7 linked regions of the Homo sapiens genome follow. The protein of the gene in region 1 purifies or fractionates together with the protein of each later gene. This does not show direct contact. Each region holds a gene or a part of one and is shown in the gene's direction. Other genes may lie near its edges. The genes, in order: CX3CL1, ATP7A, ADCY6, DENND6A, SBF1, DIP2A and UGCG.

Evidence for each region.
Region 2: the proteins of CX3CL1 (region 1) and ATP7A purify together in Homo sapiens (affinity purification with mass spectrometry; one large-scale study listed by BioGRID and IntAct). This does not show direct contact.
Region 3: the proteins of CX3CL1 (region 1) and ADCY6 purify together in Homo sapiens (affinity purification with mass spectrometry; one large-scale study listed by BioGRID and IntAct). This does not show direct contact.
Region 4: the proteins of CX3CL1 (region 1) and DENND6A purify together in Homo sapiens (affinity purification with mass spectrometry; one large-scale study listed by BioGRID and IntAct). This does not show direct contact.
Region 5: the proteins of CX3CL1 (region 1) and SBF1 purify together in Homo sapiens (affinity purification with mass spectrometry; one large-scale study listed by BioGRID and IntAct). This does not show direct contact.
Region 6: the proteins of CX3CL1 (region 1) and DIP2A purify together in Homo sapiens (affinity purification with mass spectrometry; one large-scale study listed by BioGRID and IntAct). This does not show direct contact.
Region 7: the proteins of CX3CL1 (region 1) and UGCG purify together in Homo sapiens (affinity purification with mass spectrometry; one large-scale study listed by BioGRID and IntAct). This does not show direct contact.

What each region holds. Positions count from the first base shown.
Region 1 is NC_000016.10:57,375,490-57,378,989, forward strand, and holds part of CX3CL1 (fractalkine isoform 1 precursor), read left to right. Parts: intron 1-3,500. UniProt on the Homo sapiens protein: Chemokine that acts as a ligand for both CX3CR1 and integrins ITGAV:ITGB3 and ITGA4:ITGB1. The CX3CR1-CX3CL1 signaling exerts distinct functions in different tissue compartments, such as immune response, inflammation, cell adhesion and chemotaxis.
Region 2 is NC_000023.11:77,913,693-77,917,192, forward strand, and holds part of ATP7A (copper-transporting ATPase 1), read left to right. Parts: intron 1-3,500. UniProt on the Homo sapiens protein: ATP-driven copper (Cu(+)) ion pump that plays an important role in intracellular copper ion homeostasis.
Region 3 is NC_000012.12:48,779,090-48,782,589, reverse strand, and holds part of ADCY6 (adenylate cyclase type 6), read left to right. Parts: coding exon 1-19; intron 20-3,500. UniProt on the Homo sapiens protein: Catalyzes the formation of the signaling molecule cAMP downstream of G protein-coupled receptors. Functions in signaling cascades downstream of beta-adrenergic receptors in the heart and in vascular smooth muscle cells.
Region 4 is NC_000003.12:57,655,078-57,658,577, reverse strand, and holds part of DENND6A (protein DENND6A), read left to right. Parts: intron 1-842; coding exon 843-898; intron 899-2,082; exon of another isoform or gene 2,083-3,500.
Region 5 is NC_000022.11:50,458,036-50,461,535, reverse strand, and holds part of SBF1 (myotubularin-related protein 5), read left to right. Parts: coding exon 1-13; intron 14-249; coding exon 250-377; intron 378-823; coding exon 824-1,002; intron 1,003-1,127; coding exon 1,128-1,264; intron 1,265-1,376; coding exon 1,377-1,584; intron 1,585-1,869; coding exon 1,870-2,066; intron 2,067-2,143; coding exon 2,144-2,281; intron 2,282-3,500. UniProt on the Homo sapiens protein: Acts as an adapter for the phosphatase MTMR2 to regulate MTMR2 catalytic activity and subcellular location. Promotes the exchange of GDP to GTP, converting inactive GDP-bound Rab proteins into their active GTP-bound form.
Region 6 is NC_000021.9:46,531,891-46,535,390, forward strand, and holds part of DIP2A (disco-interacting protein 2 homolog A), read left to right. Parts: intron 1-236; coding exon 237-347; intron 348-1,633; coding exon 1,634-1,757; intron 1,758-2,113; coding exon 2,114-2,223; intron 2,224-2,694; coding exon 2,695-2,797; intron 2,798-3,500. UniProt on the Homo sapiens protein: Catalyzes the de novo synthesis of acetyl-CoA in vitro. Promotes acetylation of CTTN, possibly by providing the acetyl donor, ensuring correct dendritic spine morphology and synaptic transmission.
Region 7 is NC_000009.12:111,913,814-111,917,313, forward strand, and holds part of UGCG (ceramide glucosyltransferase), read left to right. Parts: intron 1-791; coding exon 792-933; intron 934-1,945; exon of another isoform or gene 1,946-2,023; intron 2,024-3,500. UniProt on the Homo sapiens protein: Participates in the initial step of the glucosylceramide-based glycosphingolipid/GSL synthetic pathway at the cytosolic surface of the Golgi.

The sequences.
Region 1 (3,500 bases):
GGTCCAAAATGTCAGTAGTGTCACTGTTGAGAAACCTTGCCCTAAGGGAAAAATGCTCCAGAAGTTAAAAAATTCTTATTCTCACAACCACACTGTGAAGCAGGTATTGTCACATCCATTTTACAAGTAAGGAAACTGAGGCTCAGGGAGTCCGAGTGACTTGCTCAGGACACACAGCTGGGCAATGGCTCAAGCCCTCCCTTTATCACCTCATCCAGCAACCCAGGACATTTCCTGAGTCTCCTTCTAAGACCCTGGAAGACTCTTAGAAGTCCTTGAGGTCCAGCCTAAAGGAGAATTCCTCCAAGAAGCCTCCCCTGACCATTTGAAGTTGGAAGTGGTCTCTCCCTCATGTAAACCCCAATATGTTTGTGGTATGTTCTGGAACACTGTGTTTCTACCTGGCATCTAGGGTAGCCTAGAACAGTGGGGTGTTTAGGGGCTGAGTAGAAAACTAGCTCTGCCACCATGCAGCTGTGTGGCACTGGGCACATTTAGCCTCTCTTATTTCCAGCTTCTGCATCTGTAAAGTTGGGATAATACTCCCTTTGCAGGAATGTTGGGAATTAAAGAGAGCAGATGTGTACATGCTGGACACAGGGTCCAATACACAGTAGGTGTTCAATTAAAAAAAATAAATAAAACCTCTGATACTTTGTGTGCCTAATTTACCTGTCCATCAGGCTGGGAGCCTTCTGAGGCCAGAGGCATTCCTTGTTCATCTCACTGTACCTCACAGCACCCAGCACAGGGCCTGGCAAGAGGAACCAGCATTTGTTGGTTGACTGAATAAACAGAGTGATCTGATGGCATTTATTGGGATGGAAGCACTCTCTTCAAACTCAGCACCAGTGCCTATGGGAGAAAGAGCTCAAGGTTAAGGATAAGAGGGCCTGAGATTTTTGTATATACTCAAAAGTAATTCCAGCCAGTGTTGGCTGAATCAGGAAGTGGATGGATGGATGGATGGATGGATGGATGGATGGATGGATGGATGGATGGGTGGATAGATGGATGAATGGATGGATGGATGGATGGGTGGATGGATGGACAGATGGATGGATGGAAGAAGGGATGGGGAGGGGATGATGAGGGATGGATGAGTAGGTGAGATAAAAGGGGGCGGAAGATTGACAGGTGGTAGGTAGGGGAGAGGGAGTGGGTAGATGGATGAATGGAGATGAATAGGGGTTGGGCAGGAGGTGGCAGGTGGGCGAGGAATGGGTAGAAGATTGATAAGAGTGGGTGGACGGGTGGATGGATAGGTAGATAGATGCATTAAAGAGAGATAAGTAAACTGAGACTAATTTCATTCAATGAATATTGATTGAGTATCCACCTTGTGCTTGATGCTGGGAAACTATGATACCAAGACAGACAAGGTCCCTGCCTTCCTGACACTCCTATGACAGATAATATATGACTGGCTGGATGAGGCATTGTCTCCATTTACAGAAAGGAAAATTTCAGCTCTGAGAAGGGACAGGCTCCCCAGGTCAGTTAAACAATCTTCCTGGCAGAACCAAGAACTGAGCCGGGCCAGGACCATTCAGGGACCGTGGCAGAGGGTGGGGACTTTGGAGACAGGATGACTCTGTGGCTCTTTAAAGCCCTGGAGGTGGGCAATGGCTTTTCCCATCTTGGATTTGGGGAGCACAGAATGGACCTTCTTTCCTATCCATTGGGCAGCCTCCCTTGCCTCCTCCTGTCTCTGGTCACTCAGGGGCACCGTATTTTCTGGGGCTTCCCAAAGAAGACACCTGCAGGCCATTTTAGGGGACTGCCACCTGGCTCCACTCAATAGGGCCTGGGGAGGCTGCAGGTGAGTCAGTCTGAGGTTCCATTGCAGAAGGAGGGTGGCCAGCCCACACAGTGACTTTTATATCCTGGTTACTCAGAGAGAAAGGACAGCCCTGTGACCTGGGGAGCCCCTCCTGCACACAGCCCCCAACCCCCTGAAGCTACTAGTGCTTCTCCTTGATGACTCAACCCAGACCTGCCGGCCCTAAACCACCTTCCCACAAAGCAGGGTGGGCCAAAGCTAAGGGGGAGCGATGGAGAGAGGAAGCAGCAGACTCTACAAAGTCTCTCTGTGTGTGCAAGCGTGCATGTGCCTGTATTTGGGAAAGTGGTGTATGTTTGCATGGCCACATATATGTAAATATTTATGCATGAGCAGTTCGTGTTCTGGTGGAGCCCAGGGATGCCCTGGGGGTTTCCCAGGCTCTGAAGGGCTAGATAAGATCAGCTTGCTCTCTTGACTGCCCTGGTCTCCAGATGTTTGCAAAACCCTCTGGGGTCTTGCTTTTGCTGCATATAACCTTGACTCAGATCTGAAACTCAAGCTCTTCCTTGTTTTTTATACTCATCCTCCTTGAGCTCAAGCTAAGCAGAAGAAAATTTGCTGGAGATTATAGAGGAAGAGAAAAGGTGGAAATTCAATGTAAACAACTTCAAATGTTTATATCAAATAGTTGGGTTTATTTGTCCTGTCCCGGGGTTTCTCTCTGGTTCCACGTGACACTCAGCTACTGCCTGCCCCTTCCGCCCCACTCTGCCCCCACCTTATTCATACCGTCCATCTCCAACCCTCCTCCTTACTCTTCTTGCTCCAGGAATTTCAAATGCCTCTTCCCTCCTAGGCAGGATGACTCAGTACCTTTCAGCAACTGCTCTCGGGCTCATTCTGGCTCTCAGCAGCAGAACAAAGGATCATCTATTCAGCAGACCCCACCTTCCTTAGAAAGCAGTTGTACTTATATATTTTTTAAAAAGTTTATTGCTGGGCATAGTGGCTTACATCTGTAATCCCAGCTATTCCGGAGGTTGAAGTGGGAGAATCACTTGCGGTCGGGGTTCAAGACCAGCCTGGGCAACATAGCAAGACCCTGTCTCTTAAAAAAATTAGCCAGGCATGGTAGCAGGCACCTGTAGTCCCAGCTACTTGGGAGGCTGAGGCAAGAGATCTCTTTTTTTTTTTTCTTTTTTTTTTGAGACGGAGTCTTGTTCTGTCACCCAGGCTTTAGTGCAGTGGTATGATCTCAGCTCACTGCAACCTCTGCCTCCCGGATTCAAGCAATTCTCCTGTCTCAGCTTCCCGAGTAGCTGGGACTAAAGGTGCACACCATCATGCCAGGCTAATTTGTGTATTTGTAGTAGAGACAAGGTTTCACCATATTGATCAGGCTGGTCTCAAACTCCTGACCTCAGATGATCTATCTGTCTCGGCCTCCCAAAGTGCTGGGATTACAGGTGTGAGCCACCGCACCCGGCCAGGAGGATTTCTTGAGCCCAGGATTTTGAGGTTGCCGTGAGCTAGGATTATACCACTGCACTCCAGCCTGGGCAACAGAACAAGACCCTATCTCTTAAAAAAAAATGGCAGCGGGAAGAAATAAGGCAGAGGTGAGGGGATAGGCAAGGCCACAGGCCCGGTGGGGACTAGAGCAGGAGAACCTGCTCCATCACTTGCTGGCTGTGTGACCTTAGCAGGTCCCTGT
Region 2 (3,500 bases), on another chromosome or scaffold:
TCTTTTTGTGCCCAAATGTATGAGATATTGGTAGACTACATCAGTTTTCACAGATACCTCTTTCCTTGAAGGAAATGAGGGTAAAATACCCCATTTTGAGTCAGTTATGTGTACTTTGTACCATATTTTCTGTTCACATTTAAAATTATACAGCTATGTCTCAAGGATGAAAAAAGAGTTTTACTTATTTTTACTATTAATCTCTAGTGTAGAAGTCCAGTTTTTCAGACCTATAATCAGGAGTGCATTTTTAACAATTTACCAGTTGAAATAAATGGGTTATTTCACATTGTAGGGATATTGTTTTAGACTGGCCATTAACCTTATTTTATTTTATTTTTATTTTAAAAGATGTTATTGTTATTATTTATCTATGTATTTATTTCTAGAGGCAGGGCCTCGCTCTGTGGCCCAGGCTAGGGTGCCATGGCACAATCATAGCTCACTGCAGCCTTAATCTCCTGGGCTCAAATGATCCTCTGGCCTCTCAAGTAGCTGGAACCACAGGCGCATGCCACCATGCCTAGCTACTTATTTATTAATTAATTATTATTTTTTAAATAATATTATTTTTAAGAGATGGGGTCTTGCTCTGTCACCCAGGCTGGAGTGCAGTGGCGCCATCATAACTCACTGCAGTCTCGATCTCCCAGGCTCAAGCGATCCTCCTACCTCAGCCTCCTGAGTAGCTGGGACTATAGGTGTGTGCCACCACTCCCAGCTAATTTTTAAACTTTTTGTAGAGACAGCATCGTGCTGTGCAGTGGTGCTATCTCGGCTCACTGCAACCTCCGCCTCCTGGGTTCTAGTGATTCTCTTGCTTCAGTCTCCCAAGTAGCGGGGATTACAGGTGCGCGCCACCACACTTGGTTAGTTTTTGTATTTTTGGTAGAGAAGGGGTTTTGCCATGTTGGTCAGGCTGGTATCGAACTCCTGACTGACCTCAAGTGATCCACCCTCCTCAGCCTCCCAAAGTGCTGGGATTACAGGCATGAGCCACTGTGCCAGGCCTTAAAACACCTAGTGTTAAAAATGGTGTCTTAATTGTATTCTCAGATTCTCCTAGAAAGAAAAGATATACTAAATGTATATTTAGATATACTAAAACACCTAATGTTTATTTTTGTTTATTTATTTTTGAGATGGAGTCTGGCTCTGTCACCTAGGCTGGAGTGAAATGGTCTATGTTTGTTTTTTCATCTTGACAGTAATATCTTTGAACATTTTCTGGAGTATTAGATATTATTCTCTTGATGCTTCAAGGTATCTTAACTTCACCATTGTATTGCGATATATTGTTTTGGAGAGACAGTATAATATAGGATTAAGAGTGGAGGCTAGGTGGGGCACAGTTGCTCACGCCTGTAATCCCAGCACTTTGGGAGGCCGTGGCAGGCGGATTGCTTGAGCCCAGGCGTTCGAGACCAGCCTGGGCAACATAGGGAAACCCTGTCTCTACAAAAAATACAAAAATTAGCTGAGTGTGTTGGCACGTGCCTGTAGTCCCAGCTACTCAGGAGGCTGAGGTGGAAGGATCGCTTGAGCCTGGAAGGTTGAGGCTGCAGTGAGCTGAGATCACACCACTGCACTCCACCCTGGATGAGAGAGTGACAGAGTGAGACCCTGTCTTGTCCGGAAAAAAAAAAAAAGCCTGTCTTGTCTGGCTCAGTCCAGGTGCTAGACTGTCTAGGTGGGATCCCAGCCCCTCTGCTTACTACTTGTATGACCCTGCGCAGATTTCATACTCCTCTGTGCCTCAGTTCCTTCAAATTTCTAAAATGGGGACAATAACAGTACCTGTCTCACAGGATTGTTAATGATCTAATACATGTACGGTGTCTGGCAGATAGTAAACATACAATAAAATGTAGTTACCTTTAATATTTTAATATATTATTTACTGTAAAAGTAATTTTAACATCCTATATAATAAAATTATAAATTACAGTTTTGCTGTACTATAAATTTAGTAGACTACAGGATCAATATACTAATCAATCAATACTTGCAAGCAATATTTAAATTCTTTAAAAAAATTTTTTTTGGAGACAGGGTCTTGCTCCGTAGCCCAGGCTGGAGTTGCAATGGCACGATCTCGGCTCACTGCAACCTCTGCCTCCAGGGTTCAAGCGATTCTCATGCCTCAGCCCCCCGAGTAGATGGGGTTACAGGCGTGTGCCACCACACCCGGCTAATTTATTTATTTTTAGTAGAGATGGGGTTTCGCCATGTTGGCCAGCCTGGTCTCAAACTCCTGGCCTCAGGTGATCTGTCCGCTTCAGCCTCCCAAAGTGCTGGGATTACAGGTTTGAGCTACCGCTCCCGGCCCTGCCACCACGCCCGGCACAATACTTAATTTCTAACTTACACCATAGAAAATTGGCCGGTGCGGTGGCTCACGCCTGTAATCTCAGCACTTTGGGAGGCTGAGGTGGGTAGATTGCTTGAATTCAGGAGTTCCAGACCAGCCTGGGCAACAAGGTGAAACCCCATCTCTACAAAAATTACAAAAAATAGCCAGGTGTGGTGGCATGCGCCTATAGTCCCAGCTACTGGGGAGGCTAAAGTGGGGGAATTGCTTGAGCCTGGGAGGTTGAGGCTGCAATGAGCTGAGATCATGCCACTGCAGTCCAGCCTGGGTGACAGAGTGAGACCCTGTCTCAAAAAAAAAAAAAAAAAGAAAAAAAAAGAGAAAGAAAATGGAAAACTCAGATTGAGAGGGTCCCCCAGTAGCCTATAGTACACCTACATATGCTAACATGGCATCTTAAAGCTCATTATTACAGCTGGCAAATCAAATCACTGTGATGTGCTCATCCTATTTCCCTATCAAGAAAACTCATAACAATCTGCTTCTGTAATTAGTGAGCCACAGACTCTAGGCCATCGAGATTTTCCACATTCCCTAATTGTCAAATGCTGAACCATACTTGTACTGAATAAGTTGTGATACAGTGTAAGCAAGGGAAAAGGCCTTATGTATGTCTAACCTACTCTGCAAATAGCTGCATTCTTACAAAGTTGTGTGTAAATTGAATTTTTACAAAGCATGTCAGCACTTTGATTAGTACATTTTTATTGTGTGCTTATTGCATATTCAGTGTTTCCTGTGAGCTATACAAAGAAGCATAAGGCATATGTTCCAATGTCTAGCAAGAGAAAGAAGTTTAATACCAAGCAGAGAGAAATTAGGTACTACTAAACTATGAAACTGATTCCAGGGTATTCGGAATTTAAAAAGAAAGTGGCTAGGAGTATTTGACATGATTTTTCATGAAGGAGGTGGGACTTCAGTTCATTTACTTACTCAACAGTGATTTATTGAGTAGCCACCATGTTCACTGGTGGTATGATAGTGAACAGAGCAGATATGGTCCTGTTTCTGTGGAGTTTACAGACTAGTGAAGTAATAGAACTTAAATATGTGCAAGAAAACATTCTAGGTGAGGGGACCAGTTCTAAACAAAGTCATAGAAATAAATGATAAGAGCATGGACTAT
Region 3 (3,500 bases), on another chromosome or scaffold:
TGCCTTCCTCTGGAAGCAGGTAGGTGGCCAGGGAGGTAGGGATGGAGGGCAGCAGGTGGGGAATTTCTCACCTCATAAGCAGGTGGGGGCTTAGTGAGGAAGGGCGGGTGAGTCATGGGTGGAAGCTGGGTGCAGGGATGTCTGGCTGTATCTGGGAGGAGGAGCAGGAGGTGGGAGGCTAGGGTTGAGGGGTCTGCCTCCATGTGGGATCTGGGGTAGAGGACACTGCTGAGGGGAGGGAGGGCCCCAGGACCCAAGCCTGAACTCTGTCACCATGGGCCCCAGTCTCCGGCTCTTTAGCCCGCTGAAATAGTGCAGTCTGTAGAGACAGAATGTGGGGCTGGAGGCAGGGGTGTGGTATATAGCCCCAGGGCCACCGTGGGGCTGAAAAGGCAGTGCAGGCTGTGTCCAGGCCTTAGCATCTCAGCAGGCAAGTTGACACCAGAGACTGAGGCGCTGGTGCTATCCCTGAAGAGCAGCTCTAGGTGGTGATCTGGAGGTATAGAGCAGGTTTTGGATGTTGTCAGCAAGAGAGGAGTCCCCTCTTTCCTGGACCAAGGCCACTTCTGGGAGGACAGGGAAGGTGAAGAGCTGGGGTCAGTTCTCTCTGGGCTGGATGTGGTTTGAATGGGGTTGGACTGTTGAAGAGAGGAGCGTTAAGTCTGATCGTATCCCACCTTCCCCATGCTGGGCACCAGGGACCTGGGCGCCTTTCCTTGAGGTTCTCTGTCCATGCCTGTTGCTGCCTCCAGGCTCCAAGTGTGTGTGAGGTGGGACTCCACGGCTCCGTGTGGAGTGGCTGTAGGCTGACCTGCTTATCCAGTGGGCTGTATTCTTTTCTGTGGGATCTTAGACAACTAGCCTCACCTCTCCCAGCCTTAGTTTCCCAGTCTGCAAAGCTGGAATAAAAATAGCATCTAGCTCATGTTGCTGTTGGGGCCCCACCCTTTCCTAGAGTGGAGTAGAACCCGACTGGGCAGTGTTCACACCTGGGGGCAGGGAGGTTTGGGGAGTGCTGGAAGGCATGGTACCCAGTGAAGGGGTTTCTGGGAAGTCCCTTTCAGAGAGATGTTAGTTTGTGGATCTGCCATCTCCTGTTACCCCCCTGCCCAGGGAGCAGAGGCCAGGGTCCTTCAGGCGCTGCTGTAGGCACAGCCCCGCCATCAGCACAGCGCCTGGGTCCTCCACTGGACCCTAACTAGAGAGTGCTGTCTTGCTCAAGGTTTTGAAGGCTTGTGGCCTGTTGCCCACCCTGCCTCAGGCACAGAGAGGAAGTTGCCTGGGGATCCCAGGGTGAGAAGCTAGGTTCTCTGGCATGATGCCCTTCTCCACCCAGCCTGTGCTGCAGAACAGAACTTACCTGTTTTTTTTGTGGTTTTTTTTTTTTTTTGAGACGGAGTCTTGCTCTGTCGTTAGGCTGGAGTGGTGCAGTGGCGCGATCTCAGCTCACTGCAACCTCTGCCTCCCAGGTTCAAGCGATTCTCCTGCCTCGGCCTCCTGAGTAGCTGGGACTACAGGAGCGCGCCACCATGCCCAGCTAATTTTTGTATTTTTAGTAGAGACAAGTTTCACCATGTTGGCCAGGATGGTCTCGATCTCTTGACCTCATGATCCACCCGCCTTGGCCTCCCAAAGTGCTGGGATTACAAGCGTGAGCCACCGCACCTGGCCAGAATGCCAGAATGCCAGAACGTACCTTTTTAAAAGTAACTTTATAGCCCGTTTGTTTGTGGAGCACGTGCCCTTAGGGCACTGTCAGACATCTTAAAGGGCCAGGTCCTTCTGCCCCAAAGCTTCTCTTCCAGGGTGGCTCTCAACCAGGGCTTTATGGCTGGACTGCCCTCCTGGGGAAGGAGCTTAGAGGTGGTGTCTCCTTTCCCCCTTCCTCTCTGGCCAGGCATGGGCTGGGTGGGCATCTGTTCCCTGCTCTCGACTGGCATGGTGCCCAGAGCCAGGCCCAGTGCCTGACTGGGGAGGTGCAGTCCCAGGGAGGCCAGGACTGTGCCCGTCTCCCCAGGAGTGTCTGGCTACAGCTTCATGTAGTGGATCTCGATAGGCACATTCTTGGGGCAGTGGCGAAATTCACTGCTGCCCCTGTGCCAGTCCTTGGGGCCAGAGCTGCCCATACAACTTCCTCTGGGCTGAGAAACATTCCCTGTGCCCATTTGGGTATGTGGGTTTCTAGACAGGTGGGGTTTGTGGCCTCCTTCCTCGTCTACTTGGGCAGCCCCTTCCCAGATCCACCCCTACTCACAATCACAGGAAGGAGACTTTGTCCCCTACCGACCCACTCATTTAGACATACTGAACAGTGTCACCCAGTGACCCAGGCCCAGCTTGGAGTCTCCTCCGGTCCCCTGGCATCCATTTTTTCTCATAGTCAGATAGGGATGTGTGTGTACAGAGTTATTTCAGTCTCGTCCCCCTTCCCCTTCCCTCCACCGTGACTCACATTTTCCTCTTGGGCTCCTGGGGCCAGGAAGGGAAGTTGCCTGGTTTGCCCCCCTTCCCTTCTCCCCCACTGGGGGCTATTCTTAGAAACCCCCAAGGGAGATAGTGTGCCCCTCTCTTCACCCCTGCTGCTGGGAGGGGGAGCTCAGCCTAGTTGATCCTGGGCCTGTGAGCTGGACTGGGAAGGGAAGCTAGGAGGCCCATCCCAGAGGCTGGAGCTGGAAATGGCTAGGGGTGAGCCAGGCCTCCCCCTCAGTTTTACCCAAGAGGAAACTGAGGTCCCAAAGTTTAAGTGACCTGCCCAATTTTGCAGGACTAGTTCTAGTTCAAGTTAGAGCCCAGAACCTCTGGCTTCCAGGAAGTGCTTCTGCTGTTTCTCTCCCTTCTCCTTAAACCAGAGCCCTGCCCCATCCAACTCTGGGGTGGAGCCGCAAGCTCCAGGTTAATTCCTGAGTTTCCAGAAACACTGAGGCCAGCTTCCCTTAGACTTGCTCTCTAGCCAGTGCCGCTGATGATGATTGGGGGCTGAACATTCCTAGGGTGGGGCCCTAGGCCTAGGGCCTGGCAGGGCTGAGTGTCAGAGGGAGTTACACCTTGAGGGGTGGCCAGGCATGGTGGACCCCATCTCCAATTAGGGGACATCCTTTGTATCAGTAGAACTGATGACTCTCAAGCCAGGGCTCTGAGGTTGGGCTTGAGAGCTTGACTCAGTAGAGTGAGTAGGAATCTTGGAAACCTGGAATGCACTACAAAGTATGGAATGCAGTAGATAGATAGTAGGATTAGGACACAGGATTTGGAATCTGATTGTCCTGGGTTCAAGTCTCACACTAGCCACTAACAGCTGTGTGATCTTGGGGAAGTTACTTGGCCTCTCTGTGCCTCATTCCCTTACCTTTAAAATGGGATATTGTTACCTATTTCACAGAGTTTTAAGAAATGTGTTAGGGGCCAGGTGCGGTGGATCATGCCTGTAATCCATGCCCGTAAGCACTTTGGGAAGCCGAGGTGGGCGGATCACTTGAGGTCAGGAGTTCAAGACCAGCCTG
Region 4 (3,500 bases), on another chromosome or scaffold:
ACAGTTGCAAATTAATCTGATTTACTATTGGATTAATTTTTTCTTAAACAAGGACAGGGTCTCCCTCTGTCTCCCAGGCTGGAGTACGGTGGCACAATCGTAGTTCATGCAGCCTCCAATTCCTGGGCTGAAGTGATTCTCCCACCTCAGCCTCCTAAGTAGCTAGGACTACGGTGCATGCCACCATGCCTGGCTAATTTTTAATATTTTTTGTAGGGATGGGATTTCACTCTGTTACCCAGGCTGGTCTCGAACTCCTGGCATCAAGTGATCCTCCTTCCTGGATTCCCAAAGTGCTAGGATTACAGGCATGAGCTTGGGATTAATTCTTTTTTTTTTTTTGAGATGGAGTCTCGCTCTGTCACCTAGGCTGCAGTGCAGTGGTGCAATCTCGGCTCACTGCAAGCTTCACCTCCCGGGTTCACGCCATTCTCCTGCCTCAGCCTCCCGAGTAGCTGGGACTACAGGCGCCTGCCCCCATGCCTGGCTAATTTTTTGTATTTTTAGTAGAGATGGGATTTCACCGTGTTAGCCAGGATGGTCTCGATATCCTGACCTTGTGATCCGCCCGCCTTGTCCTACCAAAGTGCTGGGATTACAGGCATGAGCTGTCATGCCTGGCCGGGATTAATTCTTTATCCATGTTATCTGCATTATTTTTGATTTTCTGCTATATTAGGGAATATTGGTAAGACCCATTCCCTCTCTGGCTGTTCCTAAAGGAAGAGAATCTTAAAAGTTAGACAGGGCAGCATGGCTTATTGATCATGAGATAGATATATTTTAAAATTTTCCATAAATTTTGGTGATACCTTCTTTTATTTTTCTTTTCTATCTCTCAGGTGGACACAAATATATCTGTTATTTTACCTACTGTTCATGAGGTGGATATTTTCAGGTAAAGAATAAAAAATTTTATTAACTGACTTCCTTTTGCTTTGTGGTGGTGGTGTTAATTTATTTAAAAAATGAATATTATATAGGATGTGGAAAAAATTGGAAGAAAATAGTTATGTTTTACATGTTATAAATCAATGGTTCATCCCTGGGTACATGTTATAAGCTTTGACAATTAGGGAAATTTAAATATAGAATATGTATTATATGTAAAAATATTTTTGTTTGGTTTAGTGTGAGAATTATATTGTAATAATGTTAGAAAACATGCTTTTTTAAAAAAGAGATGCATTTTATTTGGGAGTGAAATGTCATGATGTTTGTGTTCTATTTTAAAATACTTCAGTAAGAAAAAATAGATGACGTGAAAAATGGCAAATATTAATCATTAAATCTGAGTGATATGTATATGATGTTTCTCACACTGTTGTTTTTACTTTTCTGTATGTTTGAAAAATGTCAACATGGAAAATGAAAAAACAAAAAAGAGATACTGTTAGCACTTAGAAAAGAAATAGAGGAAAAATAAAAAGTAATGTTTGTGCCTTTACCCAGAGCAGCTAAATCTTTGGATTGGTACCCAAGTTCTAGTTCCCCAGGTAGTTCTGATGTATAGGCCAGCTTGAAAAACCACTGCTATAAATGAGCAGTTACGAAATGCTCAAAAAGTCATGAAAGACTTAAAATGGATTTTTTTGGTGGGATCTTTTTTCTTTTATTTTTGAGACAGAGTCTCACTCTATTGCCTAGGCTGGAGTGCACTGCTGCAGTCTTGGCTCACAGCAGCCTCCACCTCCCAGGTTCAAGCGATTCTCCTGCCTCAGCCACCCAAGTAGCTGGGACTACAGGTGCACACCACCATGTCTGGCTACATTTTTGTATTTTTAGTAGAGATGGGGTTTCACCATGTTGTCCAGGCTGGTCTCGAACTCCTGACCTCAAGTGATCCACCTGCCTTGCCCTCCCAGAGTGCTGGGATTACAGGTGTGAGCCACTGCGCCTGGCTGACCTTTTTGTTTGTTTTTTATGACTTGTAAACTACATGGAATACTGCTTCAAAAGATTGGTTAGTTTAAAAAAAAAAAAGATTGGTTAGTTTTATATGTTGCTCTAGCACAGTACAGTCATCCTATTTCTAGGTATTTATTCAATAAAAATGAAAATGTGTCTACATGAAGACCTGTATGCAAATGTCTATATAGTAGCTTTATTCATAACAGTATAAAACTATACACAACCGAAGTATCCATCAACTGGTAAATGGACAAACAAAATGTAATACATGAATGCACATGGAATACTATTCAGCAGTTAAAAAAAAGAAGGAACAGTTGATACATGCAACAATGTGAAAGACTTCCAAAAGCATTATGCTAAGTGAAAGTTTCCAGATAATTTAAAGATACTGAATGATTCCATTTATATGATGTTCTGGAAAAGATAAAACTATAGGGACAGAAATCAGATCAGTGGTTACCTGGGGCTGGGGGAGGAAATCTACTACATAAGGGCTGCGGGCATTTCGTGAGGTGATGGAACTATTCTAGATCTTTGGTAAGGGTAAATTTTACTGCATATAAATTATAAATGTGACTTTTAAAACAAATTAATTTTCTTAAAAAGTACATGTTATGGCATTATTAGGATGAAAAGAGGGAGTGTCCCCAAAATGAATAAATATTACAGGCAAAATATACTAAGAAGAATGTGTACATTTCTCGTTTTGATACTTGACTCATTAAGGAATAATTTGCAGAATTGGCATAAATTAATATAGAGTTCAATTATTGGACATTTTTTCTTTTGAACTTCTGGGTATGAGTCTTACGCTTTATTGTTTGTTACTGATTATCTTAGCTTTTGTGGTAATCTTGCATATCCCATATCTGAAATGGTCAGAATCAGAAGTGTTTTGGATTTTGGACTTTTTTGCATTTGGGGATTTTTGCATATACATAATGAGATATCTTGGGGATGGGCCCAAGTTTAAACACAAGGGTCACTTATGCTTCATATACACCTTATACACATAGCCTGAACGTAATTTAAAAAAATATTTTTAATGATTTTGTGCATGCAACTAAATTTTGATTGCATTTTGACTTTGACTTACCTTGAGGTCATAAGTAGAATTTTCCACTTGTGGCATCATGTCAATGCTCAAAACCTTTTGGATTTGGGAACATTTTGTAATGTAGATTTTCACATTAGGGATGCTCAACCCTTAGTTAATTACCCCCATCACTAACACCTTTGATTAGCACATGTCTTGTCTCCTGGATATGAATTACATAATATTGTTTTAAGAGTGGGGCAAGTAAGTTTGTTGTTTTTAAATTCTTGTTTCCCGCCAGATGCAGTGGCTCACGCCTGTAATCCCAGCACTTTGGGAGGCCGAGGCGGGCGGATCATGAGGTCAGGATTTTGAGACCAGCCTGACCAACATGGTGAAACCCCGTCTCTACTAAAAATACAAAAACTAGCTGGGCATGGTGGCGGGCCGCCTGTAATCTCAGCTACTCAGGAGGCTGAGGCAGGAGAATTGCTTGAACCCAGGAGACGGAGGTTGCAGTGAGCTGAGATCGTGCCACTGCACTCCAGCC
Region 5 (3,500 bases), on another chromosome or scaffold:
ACGGACCCCCTGGGTGAGCCTGCAGACTCTCTGGCCCTGTCGCCCCCTCTCCCCCAGGTCTTTGGGATGGATGGGCTTTCCCTGCCTCCCTCTCCCTTTTCTCGGGGGTTCTGGGTGCCCGTGGGAAACGGGCCTTTGTCTGCTCCTTCCCCACCCACTTGGGATTCCCCATAACTGTGGTACCCTGAGATTCTGGGACCCCCCCCCCCTTACCTTCCTTGCTTCTGACTCTGCCTGGCCTGTCCTAAGTTGGGGAGCAGGTGGTGGTCCGCTCCTTCCCGGTGGCTGCGCTGACCAAGGAGAAGCGCATCAGCGTCCAGACCCCTGTGGACCAGCTCCTGCAGGACGGGCTCCAGCTGCGCTCCTGCACATTCCAGGTGGGGCGCGGTGCGCGGGTGGGGCTCTCATCCCCCGCCCTGGTCTTTCTCCTGCAAACCGGTCTTTCTTGTATGAACCATTTTTAGGCCAGTCTCCAGCAGTGGCCCTGTTGTTACGCTTGCATGTCTGGGGCCCTCACTGTGGCTCTTGAGTTGATGTCCACTGTTTGATGTGCGGTCTTTGGGTCCTTGTCCTTTCCTTGGGGCGCCGGCCCTCAAGTCCGTGTCTTGGGTGTGCCTTGCAAACCCAGGCCTCAGCTCACAGCCACTGAGATTTCGAGTTTACACAAGCGCTTGCCTTCGTGTGACACAGATACAGGCCTTTGCCTGGGGCCTGCTTCTCTCTCTGTCATGGCTGCGAGGGGAAGGGGAGCCTGGCAGTGTCAGAGTTGGGGGAGGGGCTGGGGGGCCACCCACACCCCTAAGGGCTGCTTTTACTGACACAGCTGCTGAAAATGGCCTTTGACGAGGAGGTGGGGTCTGACAGCGCCGAGCTCTTCCGTAAGCAGCTGCATAAGCTGCGGTACCCGCCGGACATCAGGGCCACCTTTGCGTTCACCTTGGGCTCTGCCCACACACCTGGCCGGCCACCGCGAGTCACCAAGGACAAGGGTCCTTCCCTCAGGTATGGATCTGGGTCCCAGGCAGGGCAGCTGGGCCTCAGCCGTGTTCCCGCTCCAACCCTCCTAGGCCCCTGTGCTCATCTTTGTCCCTCCTCCTCTCACCTTTGCTGACTCTCGTGGGCCTCAGAACCCTGTCCCGGAACCTGGTCAAGAACGCCAAGAAGACCATCGGGCGGCAGCATGTCACTCGCAAGAAGTACAACCCCCCCAGCTGGGAGCACCGGGGCCAGCCGCCCCCTGAGGACCAGGAGGACGAGATCTCAGGTGGAGGGGTGGGGGTGGAGTCCTGGGTGGTCTCTGGATGCTGACATTGGCCAGGGAGGATCAGGGCAGGCGGAGTGGCCCCGTGATGACCACGTGTGCCCGGCCTGTGCAGTGTCGGAGGAGCTGGAGCCCAGCACGCTGACCCCGTCCTCAGCCCTGAAGCCCTCCGACCGCATGACCATGAGCAGCCTGGTGGAAAGGGCTTGCTGTCGCGACTACCAGCGCCTCGGTCTGGGCACCCTGAGCAGCAGCCTGAGCCGGGCCAAGTCTGAGCCCTTCCGCATTTCTCCGGTCAACCGCATGTATGCCATCTGCCGCAGGTGAGGGCCGGCCAGGGCTGGCCCGGGTGGTGGACACGTGACTGGGTGTCTTCCCTGCCCGCTGTGGGCCTGGGCCACGGCTTCTGGTCATGTAAGGAATGTGGAGGGGGAGACTCCGGGCAGAGGGACGGGCCACAGGGCTGGGGGGTGGCTGGGGGGCCCCGTGGCTGAGCTGGAAGCGCCTCCTGCTGGGAGCCATGGGCTGGCTCCTCTTGCCCTGCTTGGGGCGTGAGCCTGGAGGCGGGTGGGGTCGCCAGCCACCTTCACGCCTCTGCCTCCTCTCAGCTACCCAGGGCTGCTGATCGTGCCCCAGAGTGTCCAGGACAACGCCCTGCAGCGCGTGTCCCGCTGCTACCGCCAGAACCGCTTCCCCGTGGTCTGCTGGCGCAGCGGGCGGTCCAAGGCGGTGCTGCTGCGCTCTGGAGGCCTGCATGGCAAAGGTGTCGTCGGCCTCTTCAAGGCCCAGAACGCACCTTCTCCAGGTACCTCCTGCGTCCTGCCCTGTGCCTGCCCTGCCCTATCTCACCCTCCCCTCCCTCAGCTCCGTGTCCTCCCCCAGGCCAGTCCCAGGCGGACTCGAGTAGCCTGGAGCAGGAGAAGTACCTGCAGGCTGTGGTCAGCTCCATGCCCCGCTACGCCGACGCGTCGGGACGCAACACGCTTAGCGGCTTCTCCTCAGCCCACATGGGCAGTCACGGTGAGGGTGCTTGTGGGCAGACGGTGGGGCAGGGGCACTTTGGGGGGCCGTGGTGGCATTTATGGTTTGGCAGGCAGGCCAGGGAGGAGCAGAAACGGCGCTGGTCATGGATGTTTGGGTGTGGGATGAGGAGCATGCCCTCCGGGTGCCGTGGGGCAGGGGCGGGAAGCCTGTCCAGACCAAGTGTGTGCCCAGACCAGGTGTGTGCCCTGACCTCCTGCCCGCCCTGACGTCCTGCCCGCTCTCCACCTCTGCGTCTGCTGCAGCTTCCTGTAGGGTCCTCCGGGTGCTGCCTCTACGCGGCTCTGTCTTACCATTTCCCACAGCCTGGAAACATCCCAGATGCTCCTCTGTCCTGTTCCCTCCCAGTGTCACTGTTTTTCCTCATCCCCCACACTCCACCCTCCCTGCATCCCCCAATCCAGACTGTCTTTGGAGCCTCTGGCCTGGCTCTGCCTGCAGCTTGGCCTCTGTCCTCGTGTGTCCTGGTTCCTTGGGCCTTGCCCGAGCTGGCCTTGCTGTCTCTGTCCCCACCGCCACGCACACTTCACAGGCGCCCTGCACACACTGAGCTAGACTGGCCCCAGGACGGGGTGGCAGATAGGCCCCACACTCACTCCTGTGTCCGGACCACCTGTTCTCTAGTTCAGAAGTGGTTTTGTTTTTCCAGATACCACATTATATACTTACATTTTACAATCGCCCTGTCTTGCTGCCTTCCCACCCCTGCCAGAAACCCTGAGTGGCATTTGCAGGTGGGGCCGCCCCTGCACCCCCCATGCCTGTGCTTCCCACAGAGTCCCTTTTGCGTCTCCGACCATCCCCAGTGCCAGTGGCTGCTGCCTCCCCGTGTCCCCCTCAGTGCCCAGCAATGCTCAGGGGCTCAAGCTTCACTCAGCTGTAGTCGTGGCTTCTAGTCCCAGCCCTGACCTTTTTTTTTTTTTTTTTTTGAGTCGGAGTCTTTCTCTGTCACCCACGCTGGAGTGCGGTGGTGCGATCTCGGCTCACTGCAAGCTCCACCTCCCAGGTTCACGCCATTCTCCTGCCTCAGCCTCCCGAGTAGCTGGGACTACAGGTGCCCGCCACCGCGCCCGGCTGATTTTTTTGTATTGTATTTTTAGTAGAGACAGGGTTTTACCGTGTTAGCCAGGATGATCTCGATCTCCTGACCTGGTGATCCGCCCGCCTCGGCCTCCCAAAGTGCTGGGATTACAGGCGT
Region 6 (3,500 bases), on another chromosome or scaffold:
AATTTTGTCTTACAAAGTCAGCACTTATTGGTTATTCATTGTTGCGTGTTCTCAAAGGCCCTGAGTCAACTGTCTCTACTCAGTTAAATACTATTTGGACTTGTCCCTTATGGTTTCAAGCACAATTATTACAATATTTGGGGCTTACAAAAATTTTATTTATAACTAGCTTTTAATTTAACTAGATATTGTAAAAATTGGAAATTTGGAATATTCATTTCTTTGTCCTGTTGTAGGTGGCGCTCGTGTTTCCGAATAGTGACCCTGTGATGTTCATGGTTGCATTTTATGGGTGTCTCCTGGCAGAGCTGGTTCCTGTCCCCATAGAAGTGCCATTAACAAGAAAGGTAGCAAACCCATGGCTCAGGTCCCGTGTGGTTCGCTTCTGAACTTGATACCAGCAGTATCTTACTTCCTTTTCACTCATGTGGGCAGGCAGCAAGCAGCTGTTTTGACAGAGGAGAGAAAGCTAGTAGTCAACAGGCTGGCCAGGACTCAAGAGAAATCAGATGCCGTTTTGCCTGCCTCTCTTCTTGTTAATGAGAGGGGCACTGAGAACCGTTTTGCTGGTGATGCTCCCACACCACACTCTTATTAGGTGGAGCTGTTCTATCATCTACATGAATTTCCCAACAGAAATGATAGCCATTTTTTCCTCTAATGAATAGAATTATGATTCAATAAGATTTTGTTCAACTTTTCCTCAAAACCATATGTTTATAGAAAATAATTATTATTTCTTAGGGATAAATATATCATTACAGTGATATAGCTCACTTCTCAGTGGCAGTTTTGAATAAACGAGATGGAAATTATCTTGCATTTCTGTTCACTTATATGACCGTAGGCAGTTTCTGTTGCTGATAAATTATTAATGTGGGGTCTTGCTGATCTAGGTATCTGTAACATTTTTGATATAACTATCAATAATATGATTACTGAAAAAAAATAGACAAGGCATGAATTTGAGAAAATCAGTTTTCTGTCATCCTGTCCCAGAATTCAGGCAGTTGTTAACAGGAGCATTATCCAGAAATATTCAAGAATCCCAAAAGTAAAATTTGCAAATCAAACTAGTGTATCTCAAAGCATAATATGTGATGGGCAGGTATTTGAATGCAGTGGTTCTTAGGAGTAAAACTAGAGATTTGTCAAATTTATATGAAGAAAATGACAGAATACTGCTGAGGGACACAGAAGACTTGGCTACAAGGAAATGTGTTTCTGTGTGGAAATAATTTAATATCGTTGGTGACCAGGCCTCTCTAGATTAATTTGTAAATTTCAAACATGATTCAATAGAAATTTCAATGCCATTAACTTTGGAGTTTATTAAAAATGCTTCTAAATGTCATTTGTAAGAATAAACTTTGAGAAATTAGCCCATTAAACTTTATATTTCAACACAAATACAAACCAAAATTATCTTTTAAATTTAAACATAGTTGTCACATTTTCATGAACTATTTCCGTGAAAAGATCATATATATCAATAATGGGACTGAATTATTCTGGAAGTTTTATGAGGGATGAAAAAAAGATCTGTTCTCTGTGCATGGCCTGGAGCACCAAGGGTCTGGGGCTGTGGCTGCTGTGAGCACCCCACCCCACACGGTCACTCTGCTTTCTGCAGGATGCAGGCAGCCAGCAGGTTGGGTTTCTGCTGGGCAGCTGTGGAGTCTTCTTGGCCCTGACCACAGACGCTTGTCAGAAAGGCCTCCCCAAGGCACAGACAGGAGAGGTGGCAGCTTTCAAAGGTGAGGCCTCCCAAGGGAAGGGGAGTCAGTGTTCTGACTGTGGTCTGTGTTAAATGCATGGTGTTCCAGAAATTAAACATGACAGAGGTGTCTGGGTCTTCAGCAAAAGTGATCCCTTGTTCGAGTCCTTGGTGAATCTCGGTTTTCATCTGGCTTCATGTCTCGACCTGTACTGTCTAATGTGGTAGCCACTGGCCGGATGTACCTTTTTAAATTATATAAAATGAAATGAGACTAAAACTTGCACTCCTTATTCGCTCAGTAGCTAGTGCTGCATGTTGGAGGCGCAGGCTTCGAGTGTGGGGAGCAGATGCCTCTGACTGCTTGCTGTTCTGTGTCCTGTCTGTGTGTCACAGGTTGGCCCCCGCTCTCCTGGCTAGTGATTGATGGGAAGCATCTAGCCAAGCCCCCAAAGGACTGGCACCCTCTGGCCCAGGACACAGGGACTGGGACTGCCTACATTGAGGTAATGACTGTTCCTAACTTAGAGAATGTAAAAACATGTCCCACAGGCTTAAGTCTTGCTTTTCATAAGAATGTAAGTTGCTATTCTTTTTTGTTAAGTTTCGGCCTAAGAGTTCTTGTTTTATCTCTGCCCTGGAAATACAGAGTGTCATATAAATCCTTGCTCAGATCCTTCCAGGTTTCTCTCTCATCTAATTCTCTCCTAACTGGCTCCCTGGGGATGCAGACAGTTATGAGGGAGCCCATGGCGCACCATTACCCTCGGGCACCTGCCCAAGAGGAGCCACAACTTCCACTGAAGCATCCCCTCAGCGGCCAGGGTTTTGCCATGTACCTGGGCTGCTGGTTAGAGGCCGATGGTTAGAGGAGAGACACTGACCACTTCTTCTTTTGAAGATTCTACCAGTTTCCATTCTGTCTGTTGTCACCTCTAGAAATACCACATCATGTTTTTTTCCTTGAAATCTTTCAGTATAAAACCAGCAAAGAAGGCAGTACGGTGGGGGTCACAGTGTCCCACGCATCCCTGCTGGCACAGTGCCGGGCTCTGACCCAGGCGTGCGGGTACTCAGAAGGTAAGGGCTCTCGGGGGTGGGGCGGTGGCCCCTCCAGCCTCACACAGATACCTGACGTACCTAATCATGTGACTGTCACTGCACCTGTCAAAACCACCCCTGGGTAGTGCCTTTGCCCATTAATCCGGGTCATGCCAGGTAGGGAGATGCACTGTCTTTAGCATGCTTACAGGGTCTCTGTGGTTGTGCTGGCCAAGAGGGCACACGGTGTCTCTTAGCAGAGTCCAGACAACCCCATCAGGGTTGTTTTCAGTAAATGCACATGGATGTTGATTTTATGGAACATGGAACCTATATCCCACTGATTGATTTATACACAGTGCTGGGTTCACAGGCCTGCCCTGGGGGGCTGGCTTACTCTGTGACATACTGAGGGTCAGGGCATTTTTCATTCAAAAAGAGGAAAACACTTTTAGTTTTCTATTACTTTATCTATGACTGTAGTTTTGACCTCAGCTGTCATGGATATAAATATATAAGTAGAATCTTTATGGTTATAGATGATCTGTTGATAAAGTATAGTCAGCACCTGATTTACTTCAAATGTCAGATACTTAACTTGAGATATCTTTAAATTAATATTATTTAATTGATAAGTACTAATTGTATATATTTATGGGGTACACTGTGACAATTTTAAAAACTGTAAAAATGGACTCAGTAGTTTTCTTACATTGTAATACTAGAATTGAACAAAACTACT
Region 7 (3,500 bases), on another chromosome or scaffold:
GCCATTTGGTCACTTATCTATGAACTGGTGGCACTGGTATATCTTCCAGTGTCATTAATAGACATTTTTCTCATCATTGAGTTTTTTTCTTACTTTCAGTTTCCTTCTGTTCTACCCCTGCCATTCTGACCTTATTAATATTGGGAGTTCCAGTTGTCCCATTATCTTGCTTGCCATGCAGACTGCTTGACACTTCTTTTAACTGTGTATTATCCCACTGCAAAGAAATTTCTCAGAAAGTTCTGGTTATCCTTTCATAATTTTCTGCTGCAGACGGTGTTTTATTTTACCTGTTTTTATAGTTCTGTGGCCACTTCAGTGGCAATTTAAGAGGAAGAGGAGTTAATCTTTGGGCTAACACTGCCATTCATTTCTTCACCATGTATTTTATTGAAATGCCTGCGCTATGCCTGGCATAGTTCTGTGAGTATAGCAATAGTCAGAGAGTAGTACATCATGGGTATTCAATCTTTTGGCTTCCCTTGGTCGTATTGGAAGAAGAAGAATTGTCTTGGGTCACATATAAAATACACTAACAATAGCTGATGAGCTTTAAAAAATCGCAAAAAATCTCATAATGTTTTAAGAAAGTTTATGAATTTGTGTTGGACCGCATTCAAAGCCATGCTTACCTGGTTCTACTTCCCTTCATGTTTAGATCCTCTTTTAGAAAGATGTCAAGTTTTAAAAATCTTAACTTAGAATTTAGGGATTTATTGATAGCTTGTCAGTGCTTTGATTTGACACTAATGTATTCTATAGAAATAATTTTTATATCATTTGCTTTTTAGCCGATTACACCTCAACAAGAAGGCAACTGACAAACAGCCTTATAGCAAGCTCCCAGGTGTCTCTCTTCTGAAACCACTGAAAGGGGTAGATCCTAACTTAATCAACAACCTGGAAACATTCTTTGAATTGGATTATCCCAAAGTAAGTTCAGTGTTACGGTTTTTTGTTTTGTTTTGTTTTGTTTTGTTCCCCTCATGATAAACATTTAGGGATTTTAACACTGTATAAGGTGAAGGTATTAAAAATTCATGATGATATTGGCCTCATAAAATATAACCTTTAGTAGTAGTCATCACAGAACAGAAATAGGTTGAGGAAGGGGTGTAAATTCCCTTTCTAACCACCTATATGTCCGTGTGAAGTAGAGATCCCTGAGTAAACCTTCTGAAACTCAGACATTGTCAAGTGCCTGGTAGTTTGAAAATAAAAATTTTCTTCCATAAGAGCTGGATATGAACAATAGGAAGAGGAGACAAGGAGAGGGAGAAAGCAGTGTTAGTGGTCTGAAATGGGTTGCAGTACAGCCAGAACTAAACGTGACTTCTCCGGAGAAACTGGCTTTGAGCCAAGAATAGATTACAGTTAGTGGTACTGTAGGGTTTCATCTTACCTCATTTTTAATTTCCTTACTGTTCTGATTTTAATAGCTAATTGTATTGCTTATACCATTTATCTATATAATCTGTATATCTGTAAACTCAGTGTACTCCCTTAATTGGAGACCTTCCAGTTTTCTTGAGATGAAAGTATTCTTTTTATCACTTTGCTTTAGTAGTCCACCTGTAGTTTCTTAGGATAACTTAATATTCTTTGATTTTTGTACTTAGCTTTACAGCAGCTTTGTATTAAATTGCTTGAGACTGCTTTTGAAAGGGCATTTTGGTGGTAACAGATCACTTGTGAGAAGAATGTGTCTTTAAGCTTCTACCCACTTGACTTTCAGTACAGTTTAGTTTTCCCTTTGCGGTCTCTATTCACTTGCCTCAATTTTTACCCTATTGCCTCAGTTTTTCCATAGCTGTTTTTGCTACTGGGAGAGTCGTCCCTCTTAATTTTTTTGGACAGGGTAGCTCAAATAATCAGAAGGAAGATGATATGCGCACTACACTTCTTATGGTGACTGGTTTTCATGCTCTTATTTCTTTTCTTTTAGCCTTTATTTTTCTCGGTAGCACCAATGAAAAGAATAGAGAAGACACAGATGTGATAGCCTTAATGCAGCACTTATTAAGTAGGTAGACATGAGTATCATTCAGTTGTATTTTTAGTGTTTTTATATTATTGCTTTGGAGTTTTGGAGTTTAGAAGCCAATTTTGGAGTATTGGAAGCTGTTTTGAAGCAAAAAAATTATATGTTCTAGTTTGTGTGTGTTTATATGCTTAATAATTTTAGATATTTGAATTAAATACATGTGTTAACTTCAATCAAATATATAATTTTTAAATAAGATATAATTGTATATACTTGTTTTTTCAAACTAAAAAATGGTAAAACTTAGCCTTTTGTAATTGAGAAAGATATAAATAAAATTAATTGTAAAATAAGCTTTGCAGTAAGAAAAATGGGAGATTTTCAAGCTCCATAAAAGTAAATGCAAAGGAGAATTAATGTTTACGAATGAAAGAAATTTTCTATTGATTATGAATGAATCTTAGAGCATAGCTTAGAGTCATATGCATTATCATTGTGAAACTTAATCTCACATTTCAGTTTTTTAACCATCCTCTTTCACTTTCCCCATTCAACCACTCTTAAAATTGGTCATGGAATTTTTACGTTGTAGTGCTTGTGAGATGATAGTCATGGGGTTTAAATGCTTGAGGAAGTCAGTGAGGGGTTTAGTTGTAGAAAGAATGGTTTTTTGTGTTCGTTTTTGTTTTTAAGACAGTATCTTGCTTTGTCACCTAGGCTGGAGCATAGTGGCACAGTCGTGGCTCACTGCAGCCTCAGCCTCCCAGGCTCAACCAGTCCTCCCACCTCACCCTCCCTGGTAGCTGGGACTATGGGCATGTGCTACCACACCTGGCTGATTTTTGTATTTTTTGTAGAGGGTGTTGCCATGTTGCCGGGGCTGGTCTTGAACTCTTGGGCTCAAGCAATCCCCCCACCTCAGCCTCCCAAAGTGCTGGGATTACAGACATGAGCCACCATGCCCTACTGAAAGAATTTTAAAAAGTAACCCCAGGGTTATATGTATCCATTGATTACGAGCATTTCTAATGACCCCATAACTGATTTCTTGTGAATGAAGATTTTGGCCAGGCGTGGTGGCTTGTGCTTGTAATCCTAGCACTTTGGGAGGCTGAGGCGGGAGGATTGCTTGAGGCCAGGTGTTCAAGACCAGCCTGGGCAACACAGTGAGACCCCCACCTTCAAAAAAATAAAAATTAAAAAATTGAAATAAAAAATTGTTTTGGAAATTACAGTTTAGAATGATCTCAAGAGCTCTTGTTTTCACTTAGAGTAGTAGCTCTTTTTCCATTTAGTTATATCATTTAAGTGGGTTGAGGAGAAAGCTATTTTGACATTCATTGTAAGATGAAGAATAGCATCTGCAGATTATTTTATTCTTTGTTAGTACAGAATTTTATTTTCTAATTATAAACTTATATTTAGCTGTATAAATAGAAAGTTTGGAAAGCAGAGGAGAAGTGCAAAGTACCTGCAATCTAAGGGAAATATTTGATTTCACAGCATTTTATTTACT